Homo sapiens: one gene and its partners. The protein of the gene in region 5 purifies or fractionates together with the protein of the main gene of each other region. This does not show direct contact. Each region holds a gene or a part of one and is shown on either strand. Other genes may lie near its edges. The genes, in order: PGAP6, POMGNT1, DCBLD2, NPC2, TMPRSS11B, SLC31A1 and SEMA4F.

Evidence for each region.
Region 1: the proteins of TMPRSS11B (region 5) and PGAP6 purify together in Homo sapiens (affinity purification with mass spectrometry; 2 studies listed by BioGRID and IntAct, with this or other methods). This does not show direct contact.
Region 2: the proteins of TMPRSS11B (region 5) and POMGNT1 purify together in Homo sapiens (affinity purification with mass spectrometry; 2 studies listed by BioGRID and IntAct, with this or other methods). This does not show direct contact.
Region 3: the proteins of TMPRSS11B (region 5) and DCBLD2 purify together in Homo sapiens (affinity purification with mass spectrometry; 2 studies listed by BioGRID and IntAct, with this or other methods). This does not show direct contact.
Region 4: the proteins of TMPRSS11B (region 5) and NPC2 purify together in Homo sapiens (affinity purification with mass spectrometry; 2 studies listed by BioGRID and IntAct, with this or other methods). This does not show direct contact.
Region 6: the proteins of TMPRSS11B (region 5) and SLC31A1 purify together in Homo sapiens (affinity purification with mass spectrometry; 2 studies listed by BioGRID and IntAct, with this or other methods). This does not show direct contact.
Region 7: the proteins of TMPRSS11B (region 5) and SEMA4F purify together in Homo sapiens (affinity purification with mass spectrometry; 2 studies listed by BioGRID and IntAct, with this or other methods). This does not show direct contact.

What each region holds. Positions count from the first base shown.
Region 1 is NC_000016.10:375,479-378,978, forward strand, and holds part of PGAP6 (post-GPI attachment to proteins factor 6 precursor), read right to left. Parts: intron 2,371-3,500; coding exon 2,193-2,370; intron 2,108-2,192; coding exon 1,900-2,107; intron 1,687-1,899; coding exon 1,559-1,686; intron 1,335-1,558; coding exon 1,066-1,334; intron 978-1,065; coding exon 658-977; intron 1-657. UniProt on the Homo sapiens protein: Involved in the lipid remodeling steps of GPI-anchor maturation. Lipid remodeling steps consist in the generation of 2 saturated fatty chains at the sn-2 position of GPI-anchor proteins (GPI-AP).
Region 2 is NC_000001.11:46,191,935-46,195,434, reverse strand, and holds part of POMGNT1 (protein O-linked-mannose beta-1,2-N-acetylglucosaminyltransferase 1), read left to right. Parts: intron 1-473; coding exon 474-591; intron 592-783; coding exon 784-882; intron 883-1,033; coding exon 1,034-1,161; intron 1,162-1,509; coding exon 1,510-1,580; intron 1,581-1,795; coding exon 1,796-1,871; intron 1,872-2,046; coding exon 2,047-2,130; intron 2,131-2,219; coding exon 2,220-2,261; intron 2,262-2,476; coding exon 2,477-2,535; intron 2,536-2,844; coding exon 2,845-2,917; intron 2,918-2,998; coding exon 2,999-3,127; intron 3,128-3,211; coding exon 3,212-3,337; intron 3,338-3,500. UniProt on the Homo sapiens protein: Participates in O-mannosyl glycosylation by catalyzing the addition of N-acetylglucosamine to O-linked mannose on glycoproteins.
Region 3 is NC_000003.12:98,807,696-98,811,195, forward strand, and holds part of DCBLD2 (discoidin, CUB and LCCL domain-containing protein 2 precursor), read right to left. Parts: coding exon 3,499-3,500; intron 480-3,498; coding exon 386-479; intron 1-385.
Region 4 is NC_000014.9:74,486,806-74,490,305, reverse strand, and holds part of NPC2 (NPC intracellular cholesterol transporter 2 isoform 2 precursor), read left to right. Parts: intron 1-3,500. UniProt on the Homo sapiens protein: Intracellular cholesterol transporter which acts in concert with NPC1 and plays an important role in the egress of cholesterol from the lysosomal compartment.
Region 5 is NC_000004.12:68,228,695-68,232,194, forward strand, and holds part of TMPRSS11B (transmembrane protease serine 11B), read right to left. Parts: intron 2,687-3,500; coding exon 2,509-2,686; intron 823-2,508; coding exon 563-822; intron 191-562; coding exon 48-190; intron 1-47. UniProt on the Homo sapiens protein: Serine protease.
Region 6 is NC_000009.12:113,256,044-113,259,543, reverse strand, and holds part of SLC31A1 (high affinity copper uptake protein 1), read right to left. Parts: intron 3,431-3,500; 5' UTR 3,396-3,430; coding exon 3,267-3,395; intron 3,090-3,266; exon of another isoform or gene 2,941-3,089; intron 2,432-2,940; coding exon 2,359-2,431; intron 851-2,358; coding exon 682-850; intron 1-681.
Region 7 is NC_000002.12:74,674,747-74,678,246, reverse strand, and holds part of SEMA4F (semaphorin-4F isoform 1 precursor), read right to left. Parts: intron 3,360-3,500; coding exon 3,212-3,359; intron 3,086-3,211; coding exon 2,863-3,085; intron 2,723-2,862; coding exon 2,613-2,722; intron 2,499-2,612; coding exon 2,338-2,498; intron 1-2,337. UniProt on the Homo sapiens protein: Probable cell surface receptor that regulates oligodendroglial precursor cell migration. Might also regulate differentiation of oligodendroglial precursor cells. Has growth cone collapse activity against retinal ganglion-cell axons.

The DNA of each region.
Region 1 (3,500 bases), on a different chromosome or scaffold from region 5:
CCGCAGTGGGGTCATCTGCCCCACGTGCCAGCTCAGCCTGGTGCTGGTGCCTTTCTTTTTTTTTTTTTTTCTGAGATGGAGTCTTGCTCTGTCGCCCAGGCTGGAGGGCAGTGCCGCGATCTCGGCTCACTGCAACCTCCGCCCCTGGGTTCATGCCATTCTCCCGCCTCAGCCTCCCGAGTAGCTGGGACTACAGGCGCCCGCCACCACGCCCGGCTAATTTTTGTATTTTCAGTAGAGACGGGGTTTCACCGTGTTAGCCAGGATGGTCCCAATCTCCTGACCTCGTGATCCACCCTCCTCGGCCTCCCAAAGTGCTGGGATTACAGGCGTGAGCCACCGCGCCCGGCCGGTGCTGGTGCCTTTCTCTGAGACTCCTGCAGGCCCACGGTGCACCGGGACCTTCCTCCCCGGGCCCTGGGACATCCTGCCTCCACCCCACCTCTGACCCGAGCTACCCCACAGCCCCGGGGCCTGTTGACAGGAACAAGGCTGCCCAGCAGGGGAGGCCCCCCAACATGGGCCCCTGTCTTGGCCCGTGCCTGCTGGTGTCACTGTGCCGCCTGTCCCGTGCCAAGGTAAATGAGGAGGCGCTGCAGGGGTTGCCCGGCGCCCTGCCCGAGCCCAGGCCACAGGCCGCTTGCAGACAGCAGGTACCTTGTTGGCCCGCAGGGAGATGGTGAGGGAACCCCCGCTGTCCATGCCGGTGTTCAGGCGCAGCCGCATCACGGAGGGCGTGTCCGAACACACCCTCACCGAGACCCTGTCCAGGGGCTGGAAGTGCACCGACACCACGTCCATGTCCTCCCGCGTGACTGGGTAGTTTGTGAGGCAGAAGGGGCTGCGGTCCACCCTGCCACTCCTGCCCAGGTCCTGGTGGTCGGGGCTCGGGGACAGCAGACCAGAGGAGGCATTGAAGCTCTGGTTTTGGCTGCTCTGCAGAAGGGGCTGGATGGTCACGCTCCGTGGCCTGCAAGCTGCCGAGAGGACAAGGGGTTTGGCTGGAGGAAAGTCTGGGGATCTGGGGAGGGGCAGGGCCATCCCTCCAGCCCTTGTGCGGCCCACCTGTGAGGGCAGCTACAGCACTGAAAGCCACTGTCCCGAGGGGCCCCACCAGGCTCTCAGCTGTCACTTGCAGCCACCGGTCCCAGGGCGGTGAGGGCAGCAGCAGGCGGCAGGGCCAGGGGGCACCGGTGCAGGTGAGCACCTTCTGGAAGTTGCTAGGCAGGGTGACCGGGCCCACGGTGAGACGCACGGGGCAGCCCAGGCTCCCATTGGACACGCAGTCCCGCAGCTCCAGCAGAAGCTCCCGCGTGTAATCGGGGACAAAGACCCTGCAGCGAGGGGACACAGCTGGCTCAGGCTCTGCCATTCCTCAGCCCAGGGACGCAGCGTGCCCAGGCTCTGCTGTTCCTCAGCCCACTCTGGTGGGGGCCAGGCATCTGGACCACTTCCCAGCCCAACCCCAGGACTCAGGGCCAGGCTCTCGCACCCACTCCACCGAATCTGAGAAGGGGCCGGAGGGCAGAGCCGGGCTGCCCCCCAGGCCCCCGCTCACTTGAGGTAGCTGGGATGGGAGAGGAGGGTCTGAGGAAGGGGCACGTCCGGCTCCATGATGGAAATCTCGACCACCCGCGTGACCAGCAGTTCAGGCTGGAAGACGTAGGCACAGGTGGGAGCCAAGCCCTAGGGAAAGAACAGGTGTGGGCGGGGGCGGTGTCAGAGAATGCAGGTGTGAGGGCATGGTCTCACCAGACGCCCCCGGCATGCAGGGAGCAGGGCTGGCCCCAGAGTGCAGCGTGGAGCCTAGAGCGAGGACCACCCCAAAGAGGTGAACGGCAGGGACAGGCCATCGCCGCAAGGTTCTCTGCCTCCATCCCGGAGGGCAGCCCCCCTCACCTTCAACTCGATCTTCTGGGATGAGGGGGGCAGGTGGGCGGCCACGAACCAGTCCCCGGGGGCCGGGTGGGAAACGTTGACGGAGGCATTGCTTCTCGGTGTGGTGCTCAGCGGCACCCCGACCTGGAAGGAGGGCTGTACCGCGGTGTCGTCCGGGAAGCTGGTGCCCAGCGGGTTGATGACCGGAGGGGCGCCGGAACGGAAGTGCCTGGAGACGGGAGAGCAGCACCGGGTTCAGGCACAGGGCTTGGCCAGGCGCGGGAGGGTGGGCAGGCGGGCGGGCAGCCACCTACACGGTGATCTCCGCGTCGGTGCAGGCAGCGCCGCTCTCCCGGGAGACCTGCAGGAGCCAGCGTAGAAGCACAGCATCTGGGGGCACGCGGAAGCGGAAGAGCCTGGCACTGCCGTACCAGCTGTAGAAGGACAGCCTCTGCGGGGCCTGCGAGAAGTGCTCGGACACCAGCCCCACCTCTGTGAGGAGAAGGAGGTGTCAGCCAGGCCGGGACCCTCCTCCAGGGCCGCAGATGGGGAGGACGAGTCCCCCAGATGGAAAGGGCTGGAAGCCCCCGGGGACCCACCTGGAGATCTTGGCACACCAACTCTGACCTTGGCAAAGGTCACCGACACCCTCTGGCCCCTCAGCCAGATCCTCTGCTGTCCCTCCCCAGATGGCCTACATCCCACCCTCCTGGCATCTGGGTCTTTTCACAGCTGCCGCCTCACTGCAGCAGCTTCCAAACAAGCCGCAGGGTACCTCAGCAGCCATCGCCACCCTGACTGCCATCGCCACCCGCACTGCCATCCCCACCCGCACTGCCATCGCCACCCTGACTGCCATCGCCACCCTGACTGCCATCGCCACCCGCACTGCCATCCCCACCCGCACTGCCATCCCCACCCACACTGCCATCGCCACCCGCACTGCCATCGCCACCCGCACTGCCATCGCCACCCGCACTGCCATCGCCACTCTGACTGCCATCCCCACCCGCACTGCCATCGCCACCCTGACTGCCATCGCCACCCGCACTGCCATCGCCACCCACACTGCCATCCCCACCCGCACTGCCATCGCCACCCACACTGCCATCGCCACCCGCACTGCCATCGCCACTCTGACTGCCATCCCCACCCGCACTGCCACCCGGACCCCCTCCAACCTTAGAAGACTACACTCCCCATGGCCAACCCAGGTCGAAGCCGAAGGACCCAGCAGGTGTCAGGAAGGAGCCCCCGCCCCTCATCACAGATGCCCTGGATATCAAGGCACGGTCCTCCCACCTCCTCTCAGCCTCCCACATCTCCATCCCTGGATGGGTTGGCTGCCTGCTTGGGCTATGATGACTTTGGACACGGCGAGACCGGAGCCCAAATTCCCCTTACCCAGAGGGAGATACTGCATGTGGGAGGGACCCAGGCCAGAAGCCTGGCCAGTCATGAGAACAAGGGGACAGCTGCCCTCTGCGTTCCAAGCGGGCAAGGCTCCTAACTGTCCTCAGGGAACGCACCCACGCCTGGTGCGGGGATGGAGAAGGGCCCGTGGGAGACATCCTGCTCATGGCCCCAGGCGAGGACTCAGGCTCTCACCCCCAGCCCCCCGT
Region 2 (3,500 bases), on a different chromosome or scaffold from region 5:
TAGAAAGAGAAGGCCCCTGCAAGGAGATGATATGTGAGCAGAAAGCTGAGGAATTGAGGAGTGAGCCAGGTGAGTATCTGGAGGAAGAGCATTCCAGGTGGAAAGAATGGCAAGTGCAAAGCCCCTATAGTGGGAAGGTACACGGCATATTTGAGGAACAGCAAAGATGCTAGTCGAGGTGGAGCAGAATAAGGGAGGAGAGTAGGAGAGTGGTTGGAAAAGAAGGCAGAGAGTGGCGGGAGAGAGAGGTGCAGATCGTGTGGGTTTGTGGAAAGGACTTATTAGCTGGATGACCTTAGAATCTCTAAGCCTTCAGTTATTATTTTATCTGTGAAAGAGAGTAACCATAGAGGGTTATTGCAATAATGTAATGAGCTATTTTAAGTAAAAGGTTGCTACATAGTTCGTGCTCTGTGAGGCCAGGTCTCCTGGAACCATGCCAGTCAGGCTAACTGCCTTCTCTGGTCCCCCAGGATGAGGGCTCCTTCCACCTCAAGGACACAGCCAAGGCTCTGCTGAGGAGCCTGGGCAGCCAGGCTGGCCCTGCCCTGGGCTGGAGGGACACATGGGCCTTCGTGGGACGAAAAGGAGGTGCCGGCATCAGAGGCCATCCACTCTGTAGTATCAAGAGCCTGGGAGGAGCAGAACCCTAGGAGATGGGGTGGGGTGGGGAACAAATAGGAGCCAGTGGCAGTGGGTTGGATGAAAGTAGGCAGGGAGATGGGAAAAAGCCCCCAAACTGGTGTCTGGGCCCCCATGGCCCTCATTCCTGCCTCCTGCCAGGTCCTGTCTTCGGGGAGAAACATTCTAAATCACCTGCCCTCTCTTCCTGGGGGGACCCAGTCCTGCTGAAGACAGATGTGCCATTGAGCTCAGCAGAAGGTGGAGTTAGTGGAGCATGGATGGGGCAGGGCCTGGGCTGGGGGTGGGCATTTAGATCTCTCTGTGGAGCTTTATTCCTTTGATTGTGTGCCTGGGGCTCTTCAAACCTTGCTGGCCCCATGCCTCCATGACAACCGCATCCTTCCCTCAGAGGCAGAGTGCCACTGGGCAGACACAGAGCTGAACCGTCGCCGCCGGCGCTTCTGCAGCAAAGTTGAGGGCTATGGAAGTGTATGCAGCTGCAAGGACCCCACACCCATCGAGTTCAGCCCTGACCCAGTGAGTGGGGCCTTAAGACAGTGAGGTTTGGACTCCTTCCCAGCTCAGCAGGGGGGCCCCAGGAATGATCTAGGTTGGGCTTTCCCTACCTGAGCCTGGGAGAGAACCAGGGGCAGGATTTACACTGCGCTCTGAAAGACAGGGCTGGGGTGAAGGGGCAGGCCATGTGAGTAAAGCTCAGCGCTAGAGTTGGGCTGAGTGTGTGGAGAGCCCAGAACAGGGAAGATCCTCTATCCCTTCCCTGTCTACTCCAGTCTGCACCTACCCTCACCTGAGAAGTCTTCCCTAGGTGGGGATCCCAGTTTGAAGGGGGAATAAGGCAAGAGCTAAACGCTATTTCTCCCACAGCTCCCAGACAACAAGGTCCTCAATGTGCCTGTGGCTGTCATTGCAGGGAACCGACCCAATTACCTGTACAGGTAAGCCTGGGAATGGGCTATACCCAGCACTGAACAGGAGGGTGCTTAGGTCATCTACCTCCAGGAGGAACTCTTGAGGTGGGCAGAAAGGCAATAGATTCTAGACGCATTCACCTCTGTGGGTAAGCATAGGGACTCTGGGCCCAGCTGTAAACACAGGGGAACCTGAGTTGAGGGGTGATGAAGTGACCCTAACCTATCCCTGGGCTCCCCAGGATGCTGCGCTCTCTGCTTTCAGCCCAGGGGGTGTCTCCTCAGATGATAACAGTTTTCATTGACGGCTACTATGAGGTGAGCAGGACTTGGGGGGTGCCTCGGGTGGAGTACAACATGGAGCAGCAGTGATTGCCAGGGACGGGCAAGGGAGACCGCCCAGGCAAGGGCTGTGAAATGTGAAGGCCTTGGATTGCAGAGGTGGGCAGAGGGAAAGTGACCTCACATGGTGAGCAGTGGCCATGTCCCCCAGGAACCCATGGATGTGGTGGCACTGTTTGGTCTGAGGGGCATCCAGCATACTCCCATCAGCATCAAGAATGCCCGCGTGTCTCAGGTACTGCATAGGCAAGTGGGGATGGGGCAGACACCTGGCTCTGCCTTCTACCCTAAAGCTCATGTGCCCTATTCCCACCCCACTCCCAGCACTACAAGGCCAGCCTCACTGCCACTTTCAACCTGTTTCCGGTGAGTACTAAGGATACAACTCTTGGGCCTGGGAGGGGGGAAACATGGGCATAAGGTCTGGGCCTGTTACGTGGCAAGCTCTTCCCCTCACTGGGCCTCATCCTTCACATCTGGAAAATGGGGGTAATGCTGCCTGCAAGAAGAGGGTTGGGGGCAAAGGAGATCACAGGATGGAGAGACCCCTTTGGGACCATGATGTCCCATTCCCCTTCTAGGAGGCCAAGTTTGCTGTGGTTCTGGAAGAGGACCTGGACATTGCTGTGGATTTTTTCAGGTGAGGGGAGTCTCTAGGTTTCAGTTGAGGTCCCTCAGTCTGCAGGGAAAGAGTCAGTGAGGTGTCCTAGAGAGCTTTCTGGAGGACATGAGCTCACAAGTGGGGGCGAAGCCTGGGCAAAGGTAGGATGGCAGGTGTTGGGGCTGCTGTTGAAGGTACAGTGGATGAATGGAGACAGTGGGGATTTGGGGGAAGGAGGTACTCCAGGAAGGAGGTGCTCCTGAGACCCAGCTCCAGCAATTCTAGCATCTCTGTGTGACTAGATTTATCCTTGTCCCTCCCTGAACTCTTTGACCCTGCCTCTCTCAGTTTCCTGAGCCAATCCATCCACCTACTGGAGGAGGATGACAGCCTGTACTGCATCTCTGCCTGGAATGACCAGGTAGGCTGGAATGACCAGGGTTTAGCAGGCGAGTTTATGAGGCCTCAGCTAATACCTCCCACTATGGCACCCTGTCCCCAGGGGTATGAACACACGGCTGAGGACCCAGCACTACTGTACCGTGTGGAGACCATGCCTGGGCTGGGCTGGGTGCTCAGGAGGTCCTTGTACAAGGAGGAGCTTGAGCCCAAGTGGCCTACACCGGAAAAGGTAACTGTCAGGGTAGGGTGAGGGGGCTGGAGTCCCCTACCAACTCGAAACATCTTAACCTTCATCGTGGTCCATGTCTGCCAGCTCTGGGATTGGGACATGTGGATGCGGATGCCTGAACAACGCCGGGGCCGAGAGTGCATCATCCCTGACGTTTCCCGATCCTACCACTTTGGCATCGTCGGCCTCAACATGAATGGCTACTTTCACGTGAGTGGGAGGCAGGGAGCAGGGCACAGTGTGGCATGACAGTCAAGAACAAGAACATGGACTCTGAAGCAATCTTAGCTCTGCTACTTGCTAGCCATGTAACCTTGGGGAAAGAGCTATCCTATTTTTGCCTCAGTTTCTTTATCTGAAAAATGAGGATAAA
Region 3 (3,500 bases), on a different chromosome or scaffold from region 5:
AAAAACTTCAGTTAATTCTCATGGTTCATAACTCATCAAACCACATGATATAGTTCCTTGTTAGTCAACCCTGCTAAACACTTCAGAGAAAGGAATTGTGTCTCATTCTTTAAGTAAATGTAACTATCATGTGTCAGAAATTGTTCATATTAATGTACATATCCCAGTGTATAATGCAGAACTTGATACAAAAAAGGTACTTAGTAACTGATTGTGGAATTGAACTTATTTATTTTTAATGGGAATAAAGGAGAAGCATGAAATTTTCATTTTAATAATTACCTTAACTCTCACTCTCAAACAGGTAAACATTTTCATCTTCTATATTTAGCTTCTACTTCACATTTGGTAGTTTTGGACTCAGGTGAACTAGTTATGTACTAACCTGTTTCTCCAGTGCCAAGCACACACTAATATGAGAATGAGAGTAGTGAGGACCATGACCAGCACAGGGACAAGAACTGCAGCCAGCGCTACATCTGAAGTTACAAAGACAAAAACAGACAAACAAAAGCCATATTAACACCAAAGGCAGAAATCACTAGGGAAAATTAACCACATCATCTTTCAACATTTTTCTACCTCACGGAAATACCATAAACATTATTTGTCAAGACTGGGCATGTGGTGGTAACTGTAGAAGCTTTTGCAGATACACAAAAGCTTGTTACACTATTCATTCCATCTGTGTAGAGATGTGAAATTTTCCTAAATTTTTAAATCACTAAAATAAAATTGAAAGACAAATGAAAAATTGGGAAAATATATTTTCTACATATGAGAAGAGTTACTTTAAATAATTATTATATTGTAGGGCATTACAAGCCAAATCCAAACATTTAAGAGAAAAATCAGCAGAGATTAACTAGTAATACATTAAAAAATACAAGTAACCATTAAATATGTTAACTTCACTAGTAATCAAAGAAATACAAGTTAAACAACCAACACAAAAAAAGTTAAAACAACAAAATACTACTTTTGCTAATCAAAGTGGCAAATATTTAAAACAACAACTAATTGATGAACAGGCTACCAGGAAACAGTTATTTTTTAATGGAAATATAAACTGATGCTATCTCACTGATTGGCATTTTTGGGCAATATGTACAAAAATCTATTGGCAATTCCATTCCTAGAATTTATTCTCAGAAACTAAAAAAAGATGCATCCTTAAAGATGTTCTCCCTGTTTCTGCGTAAGAGTGAAAAATTGGAAATAATCCAAATGCCCAAAAATGAGAGGGAATAAATCATGGTATCCTCCTTACAAGAGAAAATAATCCAGCAATTGAAATGACGTTACATCATAATGGCAAAACATTCATATATATATATATGGGAAGGTAACAATGTGGTGTTAAGAAAGTCAATTGGAAATGTGTGTGTGACCAGGTCAGAAGCCAGCATAATGCTGGAACTGGGAGAGATTTAGGGATCATTTAATCCCCTAATTTCACTCCAGAGATAAGGAATTCTGGGCCCAGATATAGAAAATGATCTGCCTAAGGTCACTTGGGATATTAGTTTCTTCCTTTGTCGCTCAACCCCCTACTTGCCATGAAGATGATAATAGCAGCACCTGCTGATATTTACTGGGGGCTCAGAGCCGGACACTGCAATGAGTCTAACCTGCACCATCTTCTTTATTCCTTAAAACAACTGTATCCAAAAGAGAGAAAGAGGCTGAAGATACAGGAGGGGGAGAGGATAATCAGTAAGATTGGGTCCCTGAGAGGTAGATCGAGGGGAACCAGGGCACAGGTGATATAATCAGCCTTGGGCAACATAAGGAAGCCCCCTTTTCACTGCAGTGAACAGAGGATACAGATAGGTTTGTAGGCTCCACAAAAAGGGAGTTTCACTGGAAGGAAACTCCCTACTTTCTCTGTGAAGTTGGAGCGGTAACTGAGAGTGGGTGAAGATATCTGGGTGAAGGGCTTGAAAATAAGGGGAATATGTAAAATAGCTACAGTTGAGAACAGACAGAAGAGCTACTGCAGCCTTTCAGAAGGTCAGCCAGCTGGTGCCACGGGCCCCACTGAGGGAGGACCTGGAAACTACAGAGGCACAAATCTGACCATGACATAATCTTTTCCATGAAATCACTCTCAGCCTGGCTGTAAAAATGGAGAAGTCCATAAACAGAAATAATGACTTAGACTAGAAAGCACTCAGAATTCACAACGGTAAATGTGCTTTTTCCATAAGATTAGTGAGACAAGAGAAGATAATCAAGTTTAGATGGATGCTGTGTGATTTAATCAGAGGCTTTAAAACATCTTCTTAGGTTCAAAAAATAAATTTATATACTACCATCCCCCTAAAAAAGAGACAGGAGGTCTCTGAGAAGACCAACTCATTCTTTGTTATTCTTTTTGGGCATACAGGGATCCTAATTCTGGAAGGAAATTATTTAAGGACTCTTTTTAGCCTTGAGGGTCTGAGATGCAATCAGATTTTAAGATGAGCAACACTTTTCAGTGACTGATCTCCATCCAGGCATGTGGTCTGGGATTCTGCCTTAGTACATGCCTTCTGACAACTGGTAAGCAGTTAAAAGATGCTGAGATCTCCTGCCTCTGAGAACCCTTGATTCTCTCTAGCTGTACCTGCAGCATGAGAAAGTAATTCATCTTTGTGAAAATACTTCAGAAGATGGGAAAGAACCAACATGGGGAAAGTCAGAGAAAGTTATCTGAATCCAGGCAAACTTTCAAAAAATGAGAATGACTGAAGTTCTATGTGGCACAAATTACTTTGGATGAACGGCTTTCTCTCTCTGCACTTTCCTGAAAACAAGGAAGCTTTTTATGTGACAACTCTGATACTTAGTCTACTATGACACTGACACTTTTTTGAATTCAATTGAAATTTTGTTTTTCAACAACTAGTAAGACTACTATGTTTTATGTATTTTGAGACCTTATTTATCACTGATAACAAAACTTGAAAGTAAATTCTAATAAATTTCTATTTATGATCTTAAAAAATATAATTGCAAACACTTAAAAAGAGACCAAAGTTTTTTTTTATGAATATGTTAACTATGAGTATTTTTTAACAATTACTAGTTTCTACTAAAAGTTCTGTTTTTATTTTCCCCTTTTTGCCATCAAGTTCCCTATCCATCAAATTAATATATTATCAAGGGAAACAAGTTTGTTTCCTGCTATGATTTCAGTTATTTCTAGAAAATATTGTATTTCTAAGCCTGAGAGTCAACATGTTTAGCTGTAAGGAACAATAAATCACAAGAGGAGGCCTGCAACACAGTGGCCTTCTCTAAATATTTAAAGAGCAATTCTACATGGCAGCAGAGACTACAACTTAGATCAATGCAGTCTTTTCCTATGAAAGAAAATAAATTTTTTTTTTTGCTATACTTAAAAACTATAGTTGGAAGAAAATAAACTGAAGGTTTAAAAATGCCCGTGAAAACTTCAGTTAAGAACAAAACAATACTATGTACTAGGCGTTCATTTCCATGTTTGCATACCT
Region 4 (3,500 bases), on a different chromosome or scaffold from region 5:
GTGTTGGTCAGTGTGATGATAGTTAAAGAGACTGTTCCACCCAAGGGTAGGTACAGGCAGCAAAGAACATCTACTTAGATTTCTGAGTTCATATCATACTTTTATAGTACTGAGCTAATCTGGTGACTGACTGCATAGCAGATAATGTACTCTCAACCTGCAGTTTGCCTCTGTCTTCATGCATTCCACTTTTGAGACAGAAAGAGTCCATCCTATTGGCTAGAAACATAATTTCTATCCACAAAGTATATTTGAGGTGAGAGGTCCAGTTTTTGTGTCAGAAGGGAACTTGCTAACCTACCCAGGAGCAGCTATTCTAGATTAAACTCATGGACTAAATCCAGATATGATAATAATAGTAAATATATGTATCACTATGTTCCAAACACTTACCTAAGATCTGTATTTGTGTTAGCTCAGCTACACCATTATCTCCAGAGAGGTAAAGTATCTTGCCTTGAGGCTATACAGTAAGTAGCAGAGATAGTGAGATTTCAAACCCAGGCATCCGGCACCAGAGTCTGCCTCTCAGCAATGATGGCTGAATGGCAGAACTTAACTTACCCTGTTACAGGCACTGTTATCAGGCAGTTCACCTGCATTCTCTCCCATTCAACTGCCCAGTCTCTGGGGCAGGAGGAAATGGGATTTTTAAAGGCTTTATTTAAACCTTTTTTGGTCAAGCATTTATTGTATACAAGTACTTTTGTCCTTGGTTAGACTGAGATTAAAATACATACATACACACACAGACACACACACACACACTTATTTTAAGAACGCAGGTTCCCAAAATCGAGTATACATCTGTAGATTGCAGATGTGTGCTTAAAATCAGTTTTTGAAACTACTTAGAAACAACCTGGACAAGTCAGATGAATCCAATTTCTTTTCTTAAATTTTTTAATTTTGAAAAATATGTATTTGTTTTGAGGATTCCCAGGGATAAATCCTATTTCTGACTCTTTCTAGTACCTTCTTAGGTCTCATCCTTATGTTTTTAACATATGCAGTATTTGCAAGTGTATCATTCCCAGCAGCTATATAGACCTAGGCCAAGTTAATATTTCAGAGGAAATGAAACCCAGACTCAGGTAGCAGTATTCTTCTTTAATGCAGCTGGCACTTCTGCCATCTTGGCTGTGTGAGTCAGTGCTATTTGGAGTTAAGCTTAACTTGTGCCCTAAGCTTGTACTGAAACTATAAAGACCTTAACCTCTGTACTCCTCTTCATCCCCTTGATTCTTGGAAAAAATCCAGATCTTAACAACCTTAGTCAAGATTTAAGGTACTTCCTGTTGTTTTTGGAGCCAAAATATTTCATGACTCATAAGTGGGCCTTAAAGAACAGGACTAAATCATTGAAGAAACTGCAGAAGTGCAGTGAAAATGGTGCAGTTCCCAATTCAGAAGTGGGAGGTAGTTCCTCTCTTAAGGGTCATTCCTAGTTCAGAGATGGTAGGTGGTTTTTCTGTTTAGGGTCACTCCTCTGTTCAGTGTTAAGTGGTAGTTCCTCTTAAATTCCATAGTCTGCTTACTCGGAAGTGAGTAGGCTTCTGGAATCAGTCTTATTTTATTTTATTTTATTTTTTGAGACAGAGTCTTGCTCTGTCACCCAGGCTGGAGTGCAGTGGCGCAATCTCGGCTCACTGCAACCTCTGCCTCCCCAGTTCAAGCGATTCTCCTGCCTCAGCCTCCTGAGTAGCTGGGATTACAGGTGAGCACCACCATACCTGGCTAATTTTTGTATTTTTATTAGAGACGAGGTTTCACCATGTTGGTCAGGCTGGTCTCGAACTCTTAACCTCTTGATCCACCTGCCTTGGCCTCCCAAAGTGCTGGGATTATAGGCATGAGCCACCATGCCCACCCTTGAATCAGCCTAATTTTAAAAGCCAAGACTGATATTCTGACACTTTTCATCGTTTTACCTATACCTTTAATAGTGCTGCTTATTTCTCTAGGAAGTCAAGTTGGGGTGAAAGAAAGAAGGGATTCCAGGAAGACAAAATACTGGGCAAAGGATTTACCAGCAGTTTGGGAGAAAGGGTACAAAATCTGGATAGAAGATACTTCATCACTGAAAATCACAGAGGATATAGGGGTTGAACCTCTACGATAGAAAGAGAATCATGGTGAGGGGCAAAGAGGCGATGCTGAATTAAGAAACCTGAAAAGTTGAGTTTGAGACAGACCTTCATCCAGAGTCCTCAAGTAGTTCTCAGATGCAAATTTCCTTGGGGTGTCCTTCCATTCATCAACATGGCTGCGTATTTAAAGCTTCTTTCAGGTTCCGGTAACAAGGGCTTCCAAGTCAGGCCCACCCATTGAGTCTTCGATCTGCCCCTTCCAGGCAATGTGACCTTGGACAAATCTCAGTAATCTTTGCTCTTCTGGTTTCTAACCCCTAAAACAAGGATGATAAATACCATTGTTGTGAGATGTTTTCTTCAGATGCCTCTGCTTTCCTTCATTCTTGCTAGTCAAGGTACAATTTCCATAGAGTCTAAAAATGAATGATTCAGGAACTAAAAACTCTTGAAGCCAGATTCAAGAAAGGTTCAGTCTGTTTTGGGATCTGGCAGACTTTCCAAGCAATAATAGCAGACTCCCTCAATCAGTGTTTGCTCATGTAGAACTTGAGGTAGAAAGATGTTGTAATTCATTTCTGATCTTCCTCCGCGGAGTTTCAGGCTCTACATTTGCTTTCTAGCTGTTTCCGCATAAAGTGCGGTTTTTGGCCAGGTGCGGTGGCTCATGCCTGTAATCCCAGGACTTTGGGAGGCCAAGGTGGGCAAATTGCTTGAGCCTAGGAGTTTGAGACCAGCCTGGGCAACATGGTGAAACCCTGTCTCTACAAAACACAAAAATTAGCCGGGTGTGGTGGTGCATGCCTATTGTTCTAGCTACTCAGGAGGATGGAGTAGGAGGATCACTTGAGCCTGGGACGGTTGAGGCTGCAGTGAGCTGAGATTGTGCCATTGCATCTAGCCTGGGTGACAGAGTGAGACCCTGTCTCAAAAAAAAAAAACAAAAAAAAACCACAAAAACAAAACAGGGAGGGTGCAATGACTCACGCCTGTAATCCTAGCACTTTGGGAGGCCTAGGCAGGCAGACCACGAGGTCAGGAGATCAAGACCATCCTGGCCAACATAGTGAAACCCTGTCTCTACTAAAATACAAAAACTTAGCCGGGCATGATGGCACTCGCCTGTAGTCCCAGCTACTCAGGAGGCTGAGGCAGGGAATGGTTTGAACCCGGGGGGTGGAGGTTGCAGTGAGCTGAGACTGTGCCACTGCACTCCAACCTGGTGACAGAGCAAGACTCCATCTCAAAAAAAAAAAAAATGTAGTTGTTCCTGTAGTGAACAACTTTCATCAGATTTACATGCTAATCTATATGCTAGAAAAAGAAAGGGAAAATAGGAATATTTTCATCCAAAGGAAGGTTGAAGCAAACGTCTTCAAGGTTTAAGTTTAAACTGTGACCCTTACCATT
Region 5 (3,500 bases):
ATTTGATTAACTGGGAGAAAACAACTGGATAATGTAACTAGACATACCTGACATGCATCAGCTTCTCCTGACATAAATCCAGCACATAACATTGTATCAGTCACAAAGCCAGAGTATGCATATGAGGCATTGCAAATTTTGTTGTCAATAATCTTCAAAAAGTCTTCTTGAAGTATCACTGGAAATGAACCTAAAAGCAATAAGTGCTGCATATTATGCAGATCTTAGACTTTGCTGGGACAAAGAATATCTACCTATAGCATAAAGCAGACTCTCTTGGTCACCAAGAGTCAGGCCAGTCCCAGGTTAGATTAGTCTCTTTCAGGTGTTTGTAATAGTTGGCTGCCTAACACATAATTTCAATTTTTCCAATTCCCATTCCCAGAGATATTTTAGGAAGTGAAGACAATTTGACATCATGCTTTTTGTCCCACCACTTGGTTTTCTTTTCAGTATATTTACTGATTGATTAATTGCATGAGGGGATGATTGATTGATTGATTGATTGATTGATTAAATAGTTATTCCCATGCAGCTATTATGATTTTACAAAAAAACTTACCATTCATATAAAGTGTTCCCCAACCTGTAACTACAACATTGTCATTTTCTGAGAGCTTCATTTTGGCTTCAGGAAGACAAATCTTACGAATGTACTCTGTAAAAGAAACTTCTTCAGCAAGCTGCACAAGGGCAATATCATCATGAAGCCCAGGACTGCTATAATTTTCATGAAAAATAATGTTTTGGACTTTCCGTGTCATATATGGTTTATTTACTACAATTCCAAAGTTGACAGTCCAATCTTTTGAATTATTTTTCCTAGAGGACACAATGTAATTAGAATACACTCAGTTGCTGGGTCACAACACTGTTCTTAGTGGTGATTATCTCATAATTTTAAGGCATGAGGTTCCCAAACAAAACTATAAACCACTGAAATTCTATTTTGAAAACTATCTTTGACATGGAGCTGTTGTAAATGTTGCAGTCACTTAAAAATAATGCTAAGGACTCAGATTTGTCAGCTTTCTGAAGATCTTTTCAAGTAGAGTCACTGATGTTTTCCCCTGCTTATTCAGTTCCATCCAGTTTCTGAACATTTAATTTGGTCAGGAATCACATGAGCGTCCTCAATTCCGTAAGTGGATGGGGTCCAGGATTAGTCTTATTGCCACATACCCTTGGTTTCAATAGCTACTTTTTTTACCCTCACCCTTCTACCACCCTCAAGTAGGCCCTAATGTCTATTGTTCCCCTCCTTGTATCCATATGTACTCAGTGTTTAGCTCCCACTTATAAGCAAGAAGATGTGGTATTTAGTTTTCTGTTCCAGCATTAATTCATTTAGTTTGGATAATAGCCTGCAACTGCATCCATGTTCCTGCAAAGGCCATGATTTTATTCTTTTTTATGACTGGATAGTATTCCATGGTGTATATGACCCATATTTTCTTTATCCAGTTCACCGTTGCTGGGCATCTAGGTTGATTTCATGTTTTTGCTATTGTGAGCTGTGGTGTACATACAAGTGCATATGGCTTTTTGGTAGAACAATTTATCTTCCTTTGGATATACTCAATTTTTGGGTCCAGATTAAATTTTACGTCAGATGGATATGCTGTCTTTCTTCAAATTTCCATCGTACTTACTATCTTTGTAATACGTGTCATGTTTACAATACTATACAGCCTCGTACTTTTAATATATGACATTTAAATTTTCTCAACTAGATTATAAACTTCTGGATGGCAAGACAAGGAAGCACCTAGTAACTGGAGTCAGACACACTTGAATTCACATTCAGTTTCTATTATTTAAGAACTAGGCTGGGCATGGTGGCTCGCACCTGTAATCCCAGCACTTTGGGAGGCTGAGGCAGGCGGATCACTTAAGGTCAGGAGTTCGAGACCAGCCTGACTAACATGGTAAAACCCCGTCTCTACTAAAAATACAAGAATTAGCTGGACATAGTGGTGCGTGCCTGTAATCCCAGCTACTCAGGAGGCTGAGACAGGAGAATCGCTTAAACCCAGGAGGCAGAGTTTGCAGTGAGCTGAGATCGCACCATTGCACTCCAACCTGGGCAACAGATTGAGACTCCATCTCAAAAAAAAAAAAAAAGAGCTGAGTGATCTTAGCCAAGTTTTGTCACCTTTCCTGAGTGAGACTTAGTTTCCTCATCTTCAAATGGTTTTAACTATACCTTCCATACAGAATTGAATGTTGTGATTAAATGAAATGATGTTAAGTAAAGCACTTAATGTCAGGCCAAGGTACCTATTTGGAAAATGTTAATTAATACTTCTATTTGCTTTTCTCTCCTTTCTCTAATTTAAATGCATTTCCTTTCCTGCTCTTTAATTACGCAGGTGATTGTAAATGTTCTATGTGATTGTAAATTTCATATGGCCTTGGTGAACCTTGACACATTAAGTTAACCCCTACAAACTATCCAAAATAGTTTTGCACCTAGCATCCTTCATTTAGTCAAATTTTCAAACTTACTTAGCAAAGCAGTGAGCTGCAGATAATAGCCACCTGCTGCTGATCAGAGAGGCTCCACAGTAGTGACGGCCTTTCCATTGCATGCTGGCCTGCCATGGCCATGCCCCCTCCAGGGAGCTTTTTCCATTCACAATTTTGTTGCCAGTTATGATACTGTTGGCTACTTGTCTCCCACAACCTAGAGAAAGGATTTATTTACACGAGAGCAGGTATCTTTGATTACGCATTATAAAAAAATATATCATTAAAAATTACTTGAAACCTTTCAGTGATTATTCAACTTCTCCTAATTGATGACGTTTCTTTCCTACAAGATACTCCTGTGATGTTTCTGTATTCTATCTTGGTTTGAGTGGTTCTTACTTATCCTCTTTTCCAGTCTCAAGCATCTTTCAACCACTATTTTTTGTTGTGTCTATGTGTTATAACTCTTGTCTCTCTAAGCAGATTCTTGAAGGAGGAGCTTTGCCTCATTGGTGTCTACATCTTGCATAGTATATGCACTGCTGTCTGTAAGACACCATGTGAACAAAAGATACTCCATAAATATCCATGGAGTGAATGAATGCATAAATGTATCTTGTGGAAAACATGATACTCTAAAGAGAATTTATTTAAAAGATGTAACAGGACAGCGATATGCTCCTATAGGCCCAGCTACTTGGGAGGCTGAGGCAGGAGGACTGCTTGAGCCCAAGAGTTCCAGGCTATAGTCCACTGTAATTGCACCTGTGAATTGCACTCCAGCCCACACAACATAGCAACATCCCACCTCTAAAGCAAAAAATAATAATAATTTTTAAGATGCAGAACTGTTTTTATCTTTAATAAATATATTTTATATAGCCTGGTTTTATATTTTCTTCTTATCCTAAATTGTCATTTCCTTCAATCTTTCTCATTTTAACATATTCAAATATGATATTTTTCACTCACAGTTTTATTATTTGGAATCAATTTTCATTTAACTTTTTATATATTTTTTAATAAAT
Region 6 (3,500 bases), on a different chromosome or scaffold from region 5:
AGTATAGAAGAAATTACTTAATTAGGGATAAGGAGACCTGGCTACTCATCCCCTGTGCCACCTTAGGTAGGTCACAATCCTTCTGGGCCCCAGTAAGCTCATCAGTACAATAAATAACACTGCTTGTTTGAAAGCAGGATATCAGTCTATAGGATTTCTTAAGGTCCAATTTGGTTTTAAGACTTACATTTTTATTAAAACAATCTCAAAAAACATTTGCCAATCTATGGGAAAAACCAATAATCATCCAAATACTTTCTTAGACAGAACACAGAAATCAATACAGTCTTACATTGTAAAGAAAAAGAGGACAGGGCTGACTAGGTGTAACTTTATAGAATCAACTGCAATCTGCCATTCTTTTATATCTTGATCTGAATTTCTTAACTTGTTCATTATTATTTTGGTAAATATTTTAAAATATGGATTCCTCACTTCCCTTCTTCCAAAGTGGCCAATCCGTACAACTCAGAACAAACATTCATATTTGCAGAAGACTCCCTCTCATTCCTCCTTTGGCCTGCTCATGACCTACAAACCCAAACCTCCAAGGACAGTTTTGATCAAGGTCATACAGAACTCCTAACTCAAGAAGAGGGCTGCTGCTGATCACACAGCTGCGCTTTGCTGCTTAACTGATCGAGTTCTTTAGGACTTCATCTGGATCTGTTCAGTTCTTACCCAACAGTTTTGTGTGTCTCCATAAGGATGGTTCCATTTGGTCCTGGGACAGGCATGGAATTGTAGCGAATGCTGACTTGTGACTTACGCAGCAGGCTCTCTCGGGCTATCTTGAGTCCTTCATAGAACATTGCTAGTAAAAACACTGCCACAAAAGCTCCAGCCATTTCTAAGTATGGAAGGAAAATATGGAGGTACTGTCAAACATGTGCAAAATCATTAGCCAATGTGCTGTCCAGCTAGAAAGACACATAGAAAAAATGCTACTCTCAGCTTTTGAAGACATTATATTTTTACCTCTTCTCTTGCTCAGATAGGAGAACGGCTAAGATGGTGTAACTGAAAACTATTGCCTCTGCCAAGAACATATTTACTTTCTGATTAAGATAAGAAAAATAATCAGAACAACAATAACCTTTTGGTCAGACTGCTTGATATCATTAAATTAGGTTTGTTACACTGAAACACACAATGTAGAATATGGAACAGGGAATAAAACAATTTAGTTTCATCAGTGGCTGACTACATTTCCTGAATAGGCATTTCAATTCTAAGTCTTTCACACTGTGAAGTGTTGGTAATGATATAAATGTATTCAAACTGCTAATTTAACACATTACCTGAACTAAATGCTCTCCTTCTTCCCAAAACAAATTGATTTTATGGCTCCAAACAGACATCTGGTACCTAAGGCAGTCCAACTGACTATTGAGTTTGCGCAAGTTAAATTTAAAGTATACCATACAACATAATAGACACAAACAGATGGGTAATCATCTACCTCAAAACTAGGAGTGTCTAAGATGGGCCGTGCCAAGAATCAGGAAGGATGTGGGCCATAGTTTGGTAGACTAAAAGAACACTGGTCTAGGTAGCTCTAGAAGGTCTGGGTCCTTGTCCTAGCTCTGACATATTAACTCTATGATTGATGGCGAGTCATTTCACAATTTGTGGCACTTAATTTATTGTAAAATTGAAGTATTAGAACAATAGTTTTAAACTTATTTTGTGGTACTTAATTTGAGTTAGTCTTATGTCCAGGACTAATAACTTATCAAATAAGTAAACACTCTGAGGCCGGGCATGGTGGCTCATGCCTGTAATCCCAGCACTTTGGGAGGCTGAGGTGGGTGGATCACTTGAGGTGAGGAGTTCGAGACCAGCCTGGCAAACATGGCAAAACCCCGTCTCTATTAAAAATACAAAAATTAGCCAGGCATGGCGGTAGGTGCCTGTTTAACTCCAGCTACTCAGGAGGCTGAGGCAGGAGAATCGCTTGAACCTGGGAGGCAGAGATTGCAGTGAGCCAAGATAGCTGCCATTGCACTCCAGCCTGGGTGACAAGAGTGAAACTCCGTCTCAAAAAAAAAAAAAAAAAAAAAAATTAAACACTCTGGAAAAGAATGAAAGAAAATGGATTGCAAAAGATTCTATCTGGTATCTAAATTATTTTTTAGAGCTCCAAAACATACATGTTAGTTAACAGAGGTTTACCAGAGGACCAAAAAAGTACTGTGTTTCCTACCTTCTAGGTAGGAAATAGGAACCAAGATGGTTATGCATCATTACCATGTTGACTTAGTAATTAGGACAGAAAGAGGTGCTGGACTTCCAAATTATTTGTCACTGTCTCTCATGTGACTATCACCTTCCAACACTACCTAATGGCTTACTCACCTCCAGCTGTATTGATCACCAAACCGGAAAACAGTAGTTCCACATTCTTAAAGCCAAAGTAGAAGGTCATAGGCTGCCAGAAAACCAAAACAAGTCAGTTAGAGATGAATGAAAATTCTAAATGAGAATTTGGGGCAAAGAAGCTTAGAACATTTAAAAGTAGAAGATCTGGATAATAAGAGACATTCACGTGAGTGGGAGGCTTTTGCCCTCATGTTAGCGTTACCACCACAGGCACCGAGCATGAGTATTCTACTAGGCCCCCACCATCAACTTTTCTCCTGGGCCCCCACCATCAACTTTTATCTTTTTTTTTTTTTTTTTTGATACGGATTCTCGCTCTGTAGCCCAGGCTGGAATGCAGTGGCGAGATCTCGGCTCACTACAACCTCCACCTCCTGGGTTCAAGCGATTCTCCTGCCTCAGCCTCCCAAGTAGCTGGGACTACAGGCGAATGCCATCATGCCCAGCTAATTTTTTGTATTTTTAGTAGAGATGGGGTTTCACCGTGTTAGCTAGGATGGTCTCGATCTCCTGACCTTGTGATCCACCTGCCTTGGCCTCCCAAAGTGTTGGGATTACAGGCATGAGCCACTGTGCCTGGCCAACTTTTGTCTTTTTCTCTTTTCCACCCAAGGCATAAAGACCAGAACCCCTAATTCAGAAAAGAGTCGATTTCAGAAGGGACCACCAAAGAAAGAAGCCTAAAATCTTGGTTCTGGTGTGACTCTGTAAGTAGCTTGCCACATAATCTGGAGCAAATGACTTGACTTGCTTGGGTCTGCTTTAGTTATCCTCACTGGTAAACTGACCTTTAAAGATAATAAGCTTCCAGTACTAAAATTCCATTATTTCTATTACCCAAGTGGGTGGGAAAGGGCCTGCATTGCCCCTCCTATGGCACTCACCATCATCATCATGCTGCTGTCTCCTCCACCATGGGAGTGTGAGGCTGAAGTGGTTGGGTGATGGTGAGAAGGTTGCATGGTACTGTTGGAGTCCATATAGCTCATCCCCATATGGTGGGAATGATCCATTTTTTCCAGGAAAAGTTGAGAGTCAGCAGAAGATTCTTTTAAGAGAAAGAATTATATATAATAATTTAAGGATATAAAAATCTTATCTCTTTTTTTTATTTTTAG
Region 7 (3,500 bases), on a different chromosome or scaffold from region 5:
ACTCATGTATACCTTAAGGGAATCCTTGAGGCTCAAGTATAGAGGATATCTAAGACCAGTGAATTCTTATTTTAATGGAAATTAAAACAATAAAGGACAGAATAAAGCCCTTGCTTTTCTCTTAGATGTTTAAAAGTTCTCCCCCAAAAAACTAAAAGACCAGGTTAAAGTTCTTAACCAAAAATGCAAAGCTGGCCAAGCCTGTCATCCAAGAGTTACTTTATATCCCCAACTGGCAAAAAGTCAAGAATCTGATCAAGAGACGGCATAAGATTTTACACTTATAATTCATGACAAATATCAGAAAAACAAAATTAAATGTTATGACTATTCTAATTATATGCCAGTTTTTTCTTTCATATCTAGCCCTACAGATCAGTTACCATTTTAAACATTTCACTCTGTTTTGACATGTGTGAATTAATCTGTTTTATTCCAAAAGACAAGTACTTTTACCTCTACAGAATTTGTAGCCATGGGGTTTTGTAATATTCTGGATTTTGTATATACTTGAGGTTCTGTAGTATACAAATATGCTATAAATTAACTGGACTTCAAAATAGGAAATCTCAAGGTCAGTTTGCAAAAACACTTTCGAATCAAGTGATTAAAAATACTTTACTGGAAGATCTCAACAATTAAAATACACTTAAGAAACATATCAACCAATTACAATTAATAAGCATTATTTGGATACTGACATAAACTTTTTAAAATATATGCAATTGAAGAAATCAGAACACTGACTGGATATTTGATGACATTAAGAAAGTAAGTTTTTGGTATGATAATGGTAATATGGTTTTTTTTTAAAGCCCTTGTATGTTAGAGATACGGACAGAAAGATTTATGGATGAAGTGAAATGATGTCCAGGATTTGCATCAAAGTAGTTGGGAATGAGTAAACGTACTGATGAGGCAAGATTGACCAGGAGCTGATGGTTGTTGAAGCTGAGGGATGGATGCATGGAAATTCATTATACAATTCTCTCTACTTTTGGATATGATTGAACTTTCCCACAATAAAATGTTTTTAAGAGTCCTGGGCTGGGCGCAGTGGCTCACACCTGTAATCCCAGCACTTTGGGAGGCCAAGGCAAGTGGATTGCTTGAGGTCAGGAGTTCCAGACCAGCCTGGCCAACGTAGTGAAACCCCGTCTCTACCAAAAATACAAAAATCAGCCGGGCATGGTGGCGGGCACCTGTAATCCCAGCTATTCGGGAGGCTGAGGCAGGAGAATCGCTTGAATAAGGGAGGCAGAGGTTGCAGTGAGCCGAGATGGCGTCACTGTACCCCAGCCTGGGCGACAGAGTGAGACTCCATCTCAAAAACAACAAACAAACAAACAAAAAACTCCTTATCTAGTAGAGATACATATTGAAATATTTAAGATGAATATGATATAATGTCAGGGATTTGCTTCAACGTGACATATGCTTTTAAGCTGCTAAATGGAAAATGGATGGTAGGAGCCCAAAATGGTCAAAAAAAGACCAATTAGGTTATTAGAGTAGTCCAGTTAAGAAGCGATGATGGCTTGGACTAGAGTGGTAGTGGTAGAGGTGGACAGAAGAGGGTGGACTAAGGACATTTGGGTGCTAGAATCAGTACAAATCATAATACGATGTGGGCAATTTCTGGCTTGAGCAACTGGATGCATGGAGGTCCCTTTACTGGAATGAGGAAGACCAGAGGAGGAGCATGTGAGAGAAAGAGGAAACAACAGTGCATACTTTGACTTGCTAAGTTTGAGTTGCTTATGAAGCATCCAAGGGAATATCAAGTAGACAGTCGGATGGGGAGTTCCACAGCTCAACTAGATATATTTGTGGTTGTCATTAGCACTCAGATGGTATTGAAAGTAACCAGAATGAAACTGCCTAGAGAGTGCATGAACGTGTGAAGAGAATGGGTCCAGGACTGAACCCTGAGGAATATCAACATTCAGTTGTTGGATGGGAAAGTAAAGGAGACCAAAGAATGCAGTCATAGAGAGCAAGAGGAAAGTATTTCAAGGAAAGAGGGAGTGGACAACTGTGAAAACACTTCCAAGAGCTCTTGTAAGATGAAAACTAAGCAGCATCCACTAGAGATGGCACACTGTCAGGTCAAGGCAGGTCCAGCAGAGAGGCAAGGACATTGATGAGGTAGCACTAGATGGACAAACAGATGAGCTAGTATGGACTGACAGAAGGACACACGAGTGATGTAGACACTAACAGACAGAAAAAGAAAACAGCCTCCGGCAGGGCAGCATTAACAGATGAGAAACGTAGACATATGGATGGGACAGAGCCCTGGCACAGTAAGCAAGAAATCCAGGCAGCTACACTCACCCTCGGTGCTCCCCGGCATGGGCCACACACTCATCCAGCCGGAAGCTCCAGGCACAGACTGGGTCCTGGGCCAGGATGCACTCTGAGCAGCTCTGGAGACGGCCACAGTTGGTTGTATTCACTTGTGTCACCTCAGTACGGGAGCCAACCAGGAGCCAGCTCTATAAAAACGGAGTGGGGAAGGGGAATACACTGGATCTCCCAGACCTCAGGGTCACAAACTGGCTCTGGACTCAGATGTCTCCCCAATAGACTCTCCAAAATCTACAACTCACGTGGTACAATTTCATGTTCTCAACTGGCTGTGGCTCTGGGAATAAGGCCAGATCTTCAAGAACGCTGAGCTGAGCTCCGATCCGCACTGCTCGGTGGAGGTGTCCATCCTCTAGGGGACAGGAAAGGAACAAGAATAATTACATAATTGCCCCTGTGCCTGGGACTCAGACCTATATGTATTACAGTACCCTCTCTGTGACGAGAATGTGTATGCACTAGGTAGGCAGCCTGCTTGACCATTAAATATACCTGTCCCCAGGTAGAGCACATCATACTCTTTCCCTGAGAGGCTGGTCACCCTGTGGGCCACGACTCTGAGATAGGCTGTATCTGTAGTGACCAGCAGGGGGTGGCCATCAGCTGGAAACACTGGCCTGTCCATGAGTGGGTGGTCCCGGATGAAGGTGAGTACGCGGTCAGGCAGGGAGAGAGATGAGCCAAAGTGCCGGAGCTTCATGTTGTTGGTGATGCACTAGAGGAAATACAGGGCTGGTGACAAAGTTTCCCAGGAACAGGACATGCCAGTGATGCTTAGTGGGGCTCTTGCCTTAATAGCAGCTCTTGACTTCAGGCCTAGAATGAAGATCTGCCCCCTCACCTCTCCAGGTCTGGGCTGGGGCACATCATTGTCCACGACAGGCAGTCCTCTGTTGCAGTCATGTTTTAGTTCTCTGAAGGGACCATTCAGCACTGTCCGAATGTCTTGTGGTCGGAAGGCACAGACAGCAGAGATAGTAGCCCCCTCCCTGGAATTCACAGGTTGGAGCTGGATATATGGAGGGGTCTGGGGGATAGCAACTCATCCCTTGTCAAATGAGATGACCCCCGAGAAACGCACAGGGAGCCATGCAGCCAAAGGCGGGAGAGCCTGCCCCCTCTGGAAGAGA